2 separate regions of the Homo sapiens genome follow, and region 1 is linked to region 2. The links come from fine-mapping of genetic effects on gene expression. A gene starts in region 2. The other region holds a variant in brackets. All regions are shown on one strand. Distances are from middle to middle.

Region 1 (5,373 bases), 21 kb after region 2:
TATTAAAGAGCCTAGGCCCAGATTTTGGTTTAGAGAGCAATATGGGAAGAAGCTGAGCTTCGTTTAAGGTATGACCAGGCTTAATTCAATGGCTTGGGACTGTTGCACATAAACTGAATAGAACACCAAAGGCTGGGCTGGGGAGGAGACTAGAAGTCACAGGGGCTGTGAGAGAAAGACCTCTTGGAAGAGCAAAGATTGAGTGGTGGCAGTAGAAAAATGAATAAGGGAAAAGCTAGTTCCAGAGGGATACAAATATTGTAATGGCACTTATATGGATTTTTAAAACATTTAATACAACTTATATATGCTTCTTCCATGGCAGACTGGAATAAAAACATTTAATCAATTTATATATATACACATGCATGGGAATGATCATACAAATATATATATATATATACACACACACACACACGTATGAGAATGATAAACAGCACATTTAGGACAGTGGTTACTTCTTGGAAGGTATATTAGTTCATATTGCATAACAAATTAACAAATTACCCCAAAATTCAGGAGCTCAAAACATAATCCAGACATGGCTTCGCTGAGTCTTTTGTTTCAGGGTTTCTTCCAAGGCTGCAATCAAGGTGTCAGCCAGGGGTTCAGTCTTACCTGAAGACTTAACCAGGAGGATCTGCTTCCAAGTTCACTCACATGGTTGTTGTCAGGATTTGGCTCTTTGTGGGCTGTTGGACGAAGGACTCAGTTCTTCACAAGGTGTTGGCTAGAGGCTTCCCTTGATTCCTTGCCATGTGGGCCACCCCATAGAGCATCTCACAACGTGGCAGCAGGCTTCATCAGAATGAACGAGTGAGAGTGCTGGCAGGATGGAAGTCAAAGTCTTTTGCAACCTAATTACAGAACTGACATCCCACAACTTTTGTCATATTTTATTCATTAGAAGCAAGTCGCTAAGTCCAGCCACAGTCGGGGGAGGGGGATGACACAAGGGCATGAATACCAGAAGACAGGGTTCATTGAGGGTCATCTTTCAAAGCTGCTAGTAAAAGCAGAGGATGGCGGGGCACAGCAGCTCACACCTGTAATCCCAGCACTTTGGGAGGCCGAGACAGGTGGGTCACTTGAGATCAGGAGTTTGAGACCAGCCTGTACAACATGGTGAAACCCCGTCTCTACTAAAAATACAAAAATTAGCTGAGTGTGGTGGCAAGCAGTAATCCCAGCTACTTGGGAGGCTGAGGCAGGAGAATTGCTTGAACCTGGGAGATGGAGGTTGCAGTGAGCCGAGATCGCGCCACTGCACTCCAGCCTGGGTGACAGAGCAAGACTCCGTCTCAAAAAAAAAAAAACTTTTTTTTTAAATAAAAGCAGAGGATGTTAGTAAAATAATTCTAGTTGTGTGGGTACTTCAACTATATCTGTAACATTTTCTTTCTTTTTTTTTATTATTATACTTTAAGTTTTAGGGTACATGTGCACAATGTGCAGGTTAGTTACATATGTATACATGTGACATGCTGGTGCGCTGCACCCACTAACTCATCATCTAGCATTAGGTATATCTCCCAATGCATATTCTCACTCATAGGTGGCAATTGAACAATGAGAACATATCTGTAACATTTTCTTGCTTAAGTTATGGGTATTTATGCACATGGGTATTTATAATGGTTTTTATATACCATTTGCAGGTCTGAAATATTTCATAATAAAGAAAAAAGAGAAAAAATTAAAGTTCAGTGGACCTAATCTCTGAATCTGTTGAAGATAGTTGTTCAGAGAAGGGGAAGGGTCCAGGGATTTGAGGGTTGGTAGCCTTGTTTCTACTTTTAGTTAAAGCTTCCTAGGTGCTCTCTAGTTAGCATCAATGCCTTCTCCCATATTATGCAATAGCATATCTCATAGTCTGTCTTACATTAATATTATTTATATATATATATATATGTGTGTGTACTGTCGTGTATGTGTGTGTGTGTGTGTGTGTGTGTGTGTGTGTGTGTGTGTGTGTCTATCTATACCCCTCCTAGGGATTGTCAGGTTCTGGAAAGTTCAGACCTTATAGAATTTTATTTGTCTTTCTATCCTATATCACCTATCTATCCCCCTCCTAGGGATTGTCAGGTTCTGGAAGGTTCAGACCTTATAGAATTTTATTTGCCTTTCTATCCTATATCACCTAGCACTGTGCTTTATACATAGTAGGTGCTCAGTAAGTGCTTGCTAAAGTTAAGTGGACTTAATGCTTCCCCACCCCATTTTGGCACTTGTGTTAACATTTTAAAATGTATTATATCCTAGTATATGTTAGGACCATAACTACAGGGCGAAATAAAAGACAGATATCCCTTTGTCATCAGTATTAAAGAGACAGAGCAAGAAAAAATAATTAGTTGCCCATACAATGTGGTGAAGTACTCCAAAATCCTCTCCCAAATAATACGTTCCCCACCACTGGA[G/A]CCTACTTTTCCTTTATTGTAGAATTCTTTCTTTAGGTTAAGGCATTCTTTCCAGGAGCTCTCTGCTAAACTACAAATAATCTTCAAATGAAACTACATCAACCTCATTGCATTAGACCTTAGTACCATATTTCTTAATTTTTTTGGGGGGGAGGATACTGATCTCTTCGAGAATTGAAAGAATCCTTTGAATACCCCCACTCCGAATGCATAACATTTTACTTTCAAGTGATGATTCATGAACTTTCTAGAGGAACTTCTTTTGCTTAAAAAGATTGAGTTGTGGCCTTGAGGGAACAAATACCCACACTTGGATATTTTACGTCTGAGGGACCATAGAGGAGGAATAGTGATTGGGAAGTGGGAGCATTGCCTAGAGAGAATTAGGTGGGGCATTTCTTTTTTTTTTTTTTTTTTTGAGATGGAGTCTTGCTCTGTCGCTGAGGGTGGAGTGCAGTGGCGCGATTTCAGCTCACTGCAACTTCTGCCTCCCGGGTTCACGGCATTCACCTGCCTCGGCCTCCTGAGTAGCTGGAACTACAGGCAACTGCCACCATGCCCGGCTAATTTTTTTATATATTTTTAGTAGAGACGGGGTTTCACCGTGTTAGCCAGGATGGTCTCGATCTCCTCAACTCGTGATCCACCCGCCTCGGCCTCCCAAAGTGTTGGGATTACAGGCATGAGCCACCGCGTCTGGCCTAAAAGTGGGGCATTTCAACACGAAAAGGACCCAGGCACCCCTAAAGTAGCAATCATGACTGAAAGTGCATGCTTGGATTTTTTTTTAAGTCTTGATATTAGAAGGACAACAGAAATTATAGTAGTTGTAGTTGCTGAAAATTTCATTTTCTGAAACTTTAGGAAGTTCTGGGTGAGGTCAGAAACCCTAGGCATCATTATTCATGTCCAGAAACGGTGTTAATCATGTACATACTCAGAATGCAGAGTTTCCTCACAATATTAATACGCTTTATGATTACACTACTCATGATTCACGTAGCAGAATAAAATCCATCACTTTAGGATAAACTGTTAATAGCTGTTGAGGGGAAATAAAGATGACAGCTGTGTACTTGCTCTGTACAACTTAGAGTGGCATCTTCCAAAATAGTAATTCCAAACTTTAAGCAGAAAATTCAGTTTAACTAAGTAGACCTGGAACAAATGCCAAATATAGTACATGGCCCCAATTACCATTGCCATATTCTGTTTCTCTTTCAGAAGAAAACACATCTGGGGCTCCACTACAGATTTCTTCTTAAGAATTGATATAGTAACTGGCCGGGCAGGGTGGCTCATGCCTGCAATCCCAGCACTTTGGGAGGCCAAGGCGGGCAGATCACCTGAGGTCAGGAGTTCAAGACCAGCATGGCCAACATGGTGAAACCCCATCTCTACTAAAAATACAAAAAAAAAAATTAGCCAGGTGTGGTGGCGGGCACCTGTAATCCCAGCTACTCGGGAGGCTGAGGCAGGAGAATTGCTTGAACCCGGGAGGCGGAGGTTGCAGTGAGCTGAGATCACTCCGTTGCACTCCAGCCTGGGCGACAAAAGTGAAACTCAGTCTCATAAAAAGAAAATAAAGAATTGATATAGTAACCTTACCTTCTTCTCTTGTGAAAGAGAACTCTTTCAACAAACACCCTACCTCCTGCTTGCCCCTTGGGCCCAGAGAACACAGCATGTCATTTTGGAAGGGTTGCTGGCCCACACTATTTCTCTTTGCAATTACTTTAATTCCCCCAAATAATCCCTTGACTTCTTTGAACTTCTCAGAAGAGAAACTGAAAAGTGTGCAGGAACATATATGTAACCACATTGTTTCATACTACACTTAGTACTTCAAGTCCATTTTCTTCACCAAGTGAAGCCTTTGCAGAATTCATAAAGGAGGGCCTGAAATAAGCCCTGAAAGGGTTTTAAAGTTCTTAAAAGTTCACAGTCTGGTGCAGTGGCTCATGCCTGTAATTCCAGTACTTTGGGAGGCTGAAGTGGGAGGATGGCTTAAAGCCAAGAGTTGGAGACCAGCCTGGGCAACATAGCGAGACCCCATCTCTACAAAAAAATTAAAAAATAGCCAGGCATGGTGGTACAAGTCTGTGGTCCAAGCTACTCAGGAGGCTGAGGCAGGAGAATCCCTTGAGCCCAGGAGGTCAAGGCTGTAGTGAACCATGATTGCACTACTGCACTCCAGCCTTGGCAACAGAGTGAGACCCAAGTCTCAAGAAAAAAAAGTCCACAGAAATAAGATTTACCAAATGTTCAAAAATAATTATGATGAATCACAATCGTGAAGAAACAGTTTTCTGTCTTTATTACAAAGTTATTTTTGAAGTGTTTCTTCATGAATCATACAAAATAGCTGATTGCAATATATATTGTCATCTTCATAACTACTTCTGAGAGAGAAAAACTCTAGTTAAAAAAAGGAAACCAATATTTTAATTGAAAAATATTTTCTGGGCCAGGTGCGGTGGCTCACGCCTGTAATCCCAGCACTTTGGGAGGCCGAGGCGAGCAGATCACATCTGCATCTCCATCACATCAGGAGATGGAGACCATCCTGGCTAACATGGTGAAACCCTGTCTCTACTAAAAATACAAAAAATTAGCCTGGCGTGGTGGCAGGCACCTGTAGTCCCAGCTACTCGGGAGGCTGAGGCAGGAGAATGGCGTGAACCCGGGAGGCAGAGCTTGCAGTGAACCGAGATCGCACCACTGCACTCCAGCCTGGGTGACAGAGCGAGACTCCGTCTCAAAAAAAAAAGGAAAAATATTTTCTGCACAGTAAAATAAATGACACAGTAATGAAAGAAACAATATACTTCCCAAATGTAGATTATGTCATTATTAAATAATTCTCTTCTTAAATTTTGATTCAATTTTAATCCACAGTAAAGCTGTAAGTTATTTTGGTAAAGTGGCAAGCCCTTCTAGATTATTCACT
Region 2 (5,373 bases):
TTAACAAAGATGCAAGGAAGAACTTCCAGGGGAATGTGGTGGCAACAGAGGAGAAGGGTGAGGGCAGGAAGGGGCTTTCCTGGCCCCTGGGGGATGGCTAAAAGGTATGGAATCTGCCTTAGAGATCTAGAGTTAAGTGACCTCCACCTGCCTCATTCATATTGCCCTGCTCTTCCCCAAGATCTGGGATCTAGCTTCCTCTGTGGCAACAGGCTTTGATGTTTTTTTTTTCCCCAGGGGTGTGCTCAGGGCTTGCTTGCGTGCCCATTACTTGCTCTTAAGACATTAGCAAATTGTTTAGTCTTTTCTGTCTTTTTTCTTCTGCAGCACACTCCAGCCTGGTGGCAGCTCACAGTCTGCCTTGCTTGTGCACAGACAGGAGCTAGAAGGGTCCCCTTCTCCGGCTGCCAGCCTTGCCCCTTCAGTCCTCATTCCTCCTCCTCCTCCCCCCATTACCTGTTGCAAGCTTGAGTGGAGATTAAACACGTGGAGACTCCGGCCCACACCCCTCCTCCACTCCACAGAGTCAGGTCCAGGACACCCTCGGATCCCAGGGCCCTGCCTGCCCAGCCCTGCTGCCTCCTCCCCGGCATGCTTCGCCAGACACCGCGCCCCACGGCCGAGCTCCTGGCAAACTGCCAGAGCTGGGCAACACCGGCTGGCGGCTCAGCAGCCACTTCCTGGGTCCAGGCGTGGTGGGTCAGAGAGCGGCTCCCTGGGGAAATTCGGGTGCCCTAGTCTAGCTGGAGATGGGGGACTGCCCACGTTACCCTTGAAGCTGCAAAGCCCACCCAACCCTCCCAGGCGGCACTGAAAAGCGGGACAGAGGCGTGACCCATTCGTAGCCAGCCCACGGTCCCCAGGGATCCCCAAGCAGTTGCCGCGCCGGCCTCCCGCCGGGCTGGCCAGGTTAAAGGGGTTGGAGGCGAGGGCACAGGCTACGGGTTGGCGGGGCGGGCAAGGGGGGGCATCTATTTCAGCCGAGGATCGTGTGATAGGAAGCGGTGACAATGAGTCACAGGGCAGCGGGGCGCAAGCGCTCCCCCTCCCCCCGCACATGCTCGTGGGATGGTTTCCGAAGCGAGCGTGGTGGCCCACTTCAGTTACCTCAGCGGTTACACAATCCCGCCCGCTCGCGCGGGGGAGGGGCGCCCGACCCGGGCCGCTCGCGGCCCTTATGCAACCAGTGCTCTCCTGACCTAATTCCATGCCGGACCCACCCCACAGGGAGCCGCGGCCCCGGAAGGGGCAACACCCGGCGGCGCGAGCGGCGGACGCAGGCGCCGACCGGACATCTCCTGCTGGCTACAGCCCAGAGGACCGGGCGCAAGTGCGAGGAGCGCGCGAAGTTCCTCTCCTCGCTGGGAAGGTGCGAGCAGGTGTAAGAGGAGACCAGGAGTGCAGCGGGAGAAGGAGAGTCAGAGGAACAGAGACAGTGACACCGAAAAAGAAAGAAACAGTGACAAAGATACGAAGAGACGGAGAAAAAGAACCAGAAGCAAGGAGACACAGACAGGAACGGGGACTGAGAGACAGGAACACAAAAGCTAACAGAAGTAGCAGGAAAAGACAAAAAGCAACCGAGATCAACACAAACACAGTGAAACACAGATAAGCAGTGAAAACAGAACAAACTCAGAGACCCAGCCCCAGAATCACCCCTCCCCCACCCCGCCACAGTCCATGGGTCCCCCGCCCCCTCTTCTGCCCTGGTCCAAATCCCTTCTCGCTGCGGGGTTTGTTCTCCCGCTCCCTCATGTAGCCACCGAGCCCCAGCCCCGGCCCGGCAGCGCGTTGGACTCACCCAACTTAACTGCCTCGTTGTACTTGAGCAGTGCCGCCTCCACCTGGCGCTCGCGGTACAGTCGGTTGCCCTCGTGCCGGAGTTGCGACGCTCGCGCTGGGCCTGGAAACAACTTGCCGAGGAGGCCGCTGAGCACCACGTTGACTCGCAGCGGCGGCGGCGGCTGCTGCCCAGCCCGCCGGGCTCCACGCGCCCGCCCAGTGGCCACCATCAAGGCGGAGAGCTTGACCCCGCACAGCGCACAGCGCCGGTCGGCGGCCCGCCCACGTTCCAGGCACAGTTTACAAAAGGTGTGGCCACACGACAAGGACACGGGGTCTGATAGAAACCCATGACATTTCCGGCACTTAAAGCCGTCCCACACCTCGGTGGCCGCCGCAGCCGCGGCGGCCCCCGTCTCTTCCGCCGCCACGGTGCCGCTTGCAGTGCTACCCTCGTCCGGGGGCGCCGGCGCCAGCGCCTCGCCTTGCGGGACTTTCTCCGCCAGGCAGCGCACCAGCTGCTCCAGCTGCTCAGCCACCAGCTGCTGCCGCTCGGAGAGCTGTCTATACACCTCGAGGGCTTCACGGATTCGCCCCCGGGACGCCAAGGCGTCTGCCTGCGTGAGCAGGACTTTGCTCTCCGGCGTTGAGGTCCCCGGAGACTGCTCTTGCTCTGGCTCCCGCGTCGGTAGAGGTGCGGGGCCCTCTGCAGCCACCTTTGGGTGGGGGCCCATGTCTACTTGGGCCGCTGATGCCCCTCGCTCCGCCGACTCCAAGTTGTCGCTGCTGACCTCAGCGGGCAAGCTCAGCATCTGTTCGATCCGTACTGACTCCATGGGAAGAGGGACACGGGAGGAGACGAGGCGTCTAGGGACCGGGGACACGAAGCAAGGAGTGGCAGCTGGAGGAAATCGGGGCAGCCACCGCCGCCATGCCACCGAGCTCCTGACCCTGCCGCGCCTCCGGGAGCTCCATGCCGGCCGCCCCGCGCCGCCTAATAACTGTCTTGTCTCAGCAAAGTGTTATATAAAACGGTACCACGTGACGTGCCGCCACGCTGTTCATTGGCCGGCGGCGGGGAAATTGTTACAAAACCAGACAGTTTTGTAACAGTGTTGCTCTTGCTTCTTTGGGCTTCGCTTTTCTTGGCTTCTTTTTGAGGTTGTTTGTGTTTACACTTCGCCTTATTCCTCCTCACCACCTGGTTCTTTTTCGGAAGTGGGGTTGTGGGGTGGGGAGAAACTCAGTGTCTTCTCTTGGGCTTCTCAGTCTCCAAACCCCACTCCATCCCACCTCCAAACGGGCCAGCAAACAGGTCCCCTCTGCCAGCCGCTGACCAGCGGCCCCCCACTCCTCCCAGGAGAGGCTGGTACCTCGAGGTGCACAGTCCGCAGGGTCTTCCGGGACGCCTAAGACTCTCCCTCTTGGGGGAGATGGCTGCTGTCAGGGAAAGGAAGCAGGTTGGGAGGGGTATCCGTGAAGCCCCCCCACACACACACAACCCAGTCCCAGCCCGAGAGCCCTGGGAGCCCCGCCTGGGTTCCTTGCCTTCTCCCAGGAGCCTCCCAAAGGTGGTGAATTCGGTTTCTGAGGGTGCTTGGTGTTCTGTGCCAAGAGTGACTCAGAGCAGCGGGTCCCACCGGCGCAGAAGTTGGGCAGCGCTCGCTGGACAGTGAGGAACTCGCGGAGAAGATGCGCTTGCCGGCTCAGCCCTGGGAGGGAGATGCCCCGCTAACTCCCCTCTTTACCTCTCTACCCCCAACGCCAGAACTAGCGCTGGGGCAGGCGGTAGGCGCCCAGCTGGAGACACACCAGGCCGGCCCCTGGAGCCACTGGCCGGATGGGCGCGGCAGGGATGTACCCGGCCTGCTGGGGTCGGTGGGTACTCTGGGGGCGTGGGAGAGTGGCAGGGGGAAGACGCGAGCTGAGAGCGCTATTCAGGAGAAAGTCCGCGAATCCCGGCACAGCCCAGTGGCAGACCGAATAGCCTCCAGGTTTGTCGCTCCTGAGCGCTGCGCGGGAAGGGTACAACTGGGCACGAGCCTCAGCGCCTGGTTTACAATGGCTAGGGGGCCTCGACGGTGTCCTACACACTTCCTGAAGGCGAGCGGGGTGGCCAACTGCACACTCTTTGTCTGCCTTGAACCCCCACATTTAGGACGGGAACCAAGCTCACAAATGAGCAGACAGAAAACGGTATAGTCGCACTGCTCCAAGCAGGGAGGCAGGGACTAGGCTTGCCGCTGGCTCAGTTGGCCTTCAGAGCCTGCGGGCTCTTGGGCAGTGCCAGGTTGCCGCCCCAGGGGCCTGAAGACCTATTGTTGCCCCCTGCTGCAGCCACCTCTTAGCCAGATGACCTTGGGGAAGTCAAACTTTAGAATCCATCATTTTTGCTTCTGAACAAATGTTAGAGCTGATCTTACTTGGGATTAAGTCATGTTTCAGAGTTGGGTTATGGCAGGCCCCCTCGGGTCTCTGCTTCTCTTTAGGTAGTTAAACCAGTCTTAGATCAACACCAAGGTCCCAGAGAACAGGTACTATGCAGCCAGCTCTAGAGCCTCTTTCTAATAAGACAGGACAGAGGGAGAGGGTCACAGGGCAGAAAGGAAGCATCACATAGGGGAAAAAAGACACACACACGAAAAAAAAAAAAAATGAAGAAGAAGGAGAAGGAGAAGAAGAAATAGAGAAACTCCAGATGTAGTCAGGAAAGCACGAGGGACACATTGGAAAACTTGGCTTGAAGCCTTGGATTTGTCACATATTTGCTATGAAACCTTAGGTAGGTTCTCCAAACCTTAGTTTCTCTTAATCTCCAAGGTTCCCTCCAGCTCTAACCTTGAGTGGCTTTGATCCTAAGACCAAATTTCATGATACTAACTCAGTTACTTAAGTACAAATGACTAGTCCAAATGCTGTGGATGGTGGCTTGAACCGGGGTTGAGGGGATGGGAAATCAATGGAAGATTGTCCATTTAGTCGGGGTCAGACCTGAGCTAGATTTTTTTTTTTTTTTTGAGATGGAGTTTGGCTATTGTTGCCCAGGCTGGAGTGCAATGGAACGATCTCAGCTCACCACAACCTCCGCCTCCCAGGTTCAAGTGATTCTCCTGCCTCAGCCTCCCAAGTAGCTGGGATTACAGGCACGTGCCACCACAGCTGGCTAATTTTTTTGTATTTTTAGTAGAGACGGGGTTTCTCCATGTTGGTCAGGCTGGTCTCGAACTCCTGACCTCAGGTGATCCGCCCGCCTCAGCCTCCCAAAGTGCTGGAATTACAGGTGTGAGCCACCGCGCCTGGCCCCTGAGCTAGATTTTTAAGATGTAGAAGTCGGAGGACTGGCTAAGAGGTGGAGGAGGTGGCCATACCAAGCAGTAGGGGAGAAACTGGAGTTCCTGGTGAGTTGCTATCTAACTGAAGGGAGCTCTTTTCACCTCTCAGTTTCCCCTACTATCAAATGAGGTCCCCAGCACTAATTATCTGCCTGCCCCTTCAGGCATCTGTGAGGAAGGACAGTCGTTGGGGAAGGTAGAGATTCATGAGATAGATAATGATGAAACCATCTTAATTCAAGAGCTTTACCCCTTT

What was found.
Region 1: its variant is fine-mapped to the expression of LONRF3 in nasal epithelium (TOPMed, PIP 0.92).

What each region holds. Positions count from the first base shown.
Region 1 is chrX:118,950,622-118,955,994 of GRCh38, reverse strand. No RefSeq gene overlaps it. Among named protein-coding and RNA genes, the nearest start is that of LONRF3, 21 kb to the left of the region's middle. The variant G/A (reference allele first, on the strand shown) is at 2,424.
Region 2 is chrX:118,972,029-118,977,401 of GRCh38, reverse strand. LONRF3 (LON peptidase N-terminal domain and ring finger 3) reads right to left here and starts at 2,784. Exons shown (of 11, transcript NM_001031855.3): 1 at 1,805-2,784. The coding sequence starts at 2,621.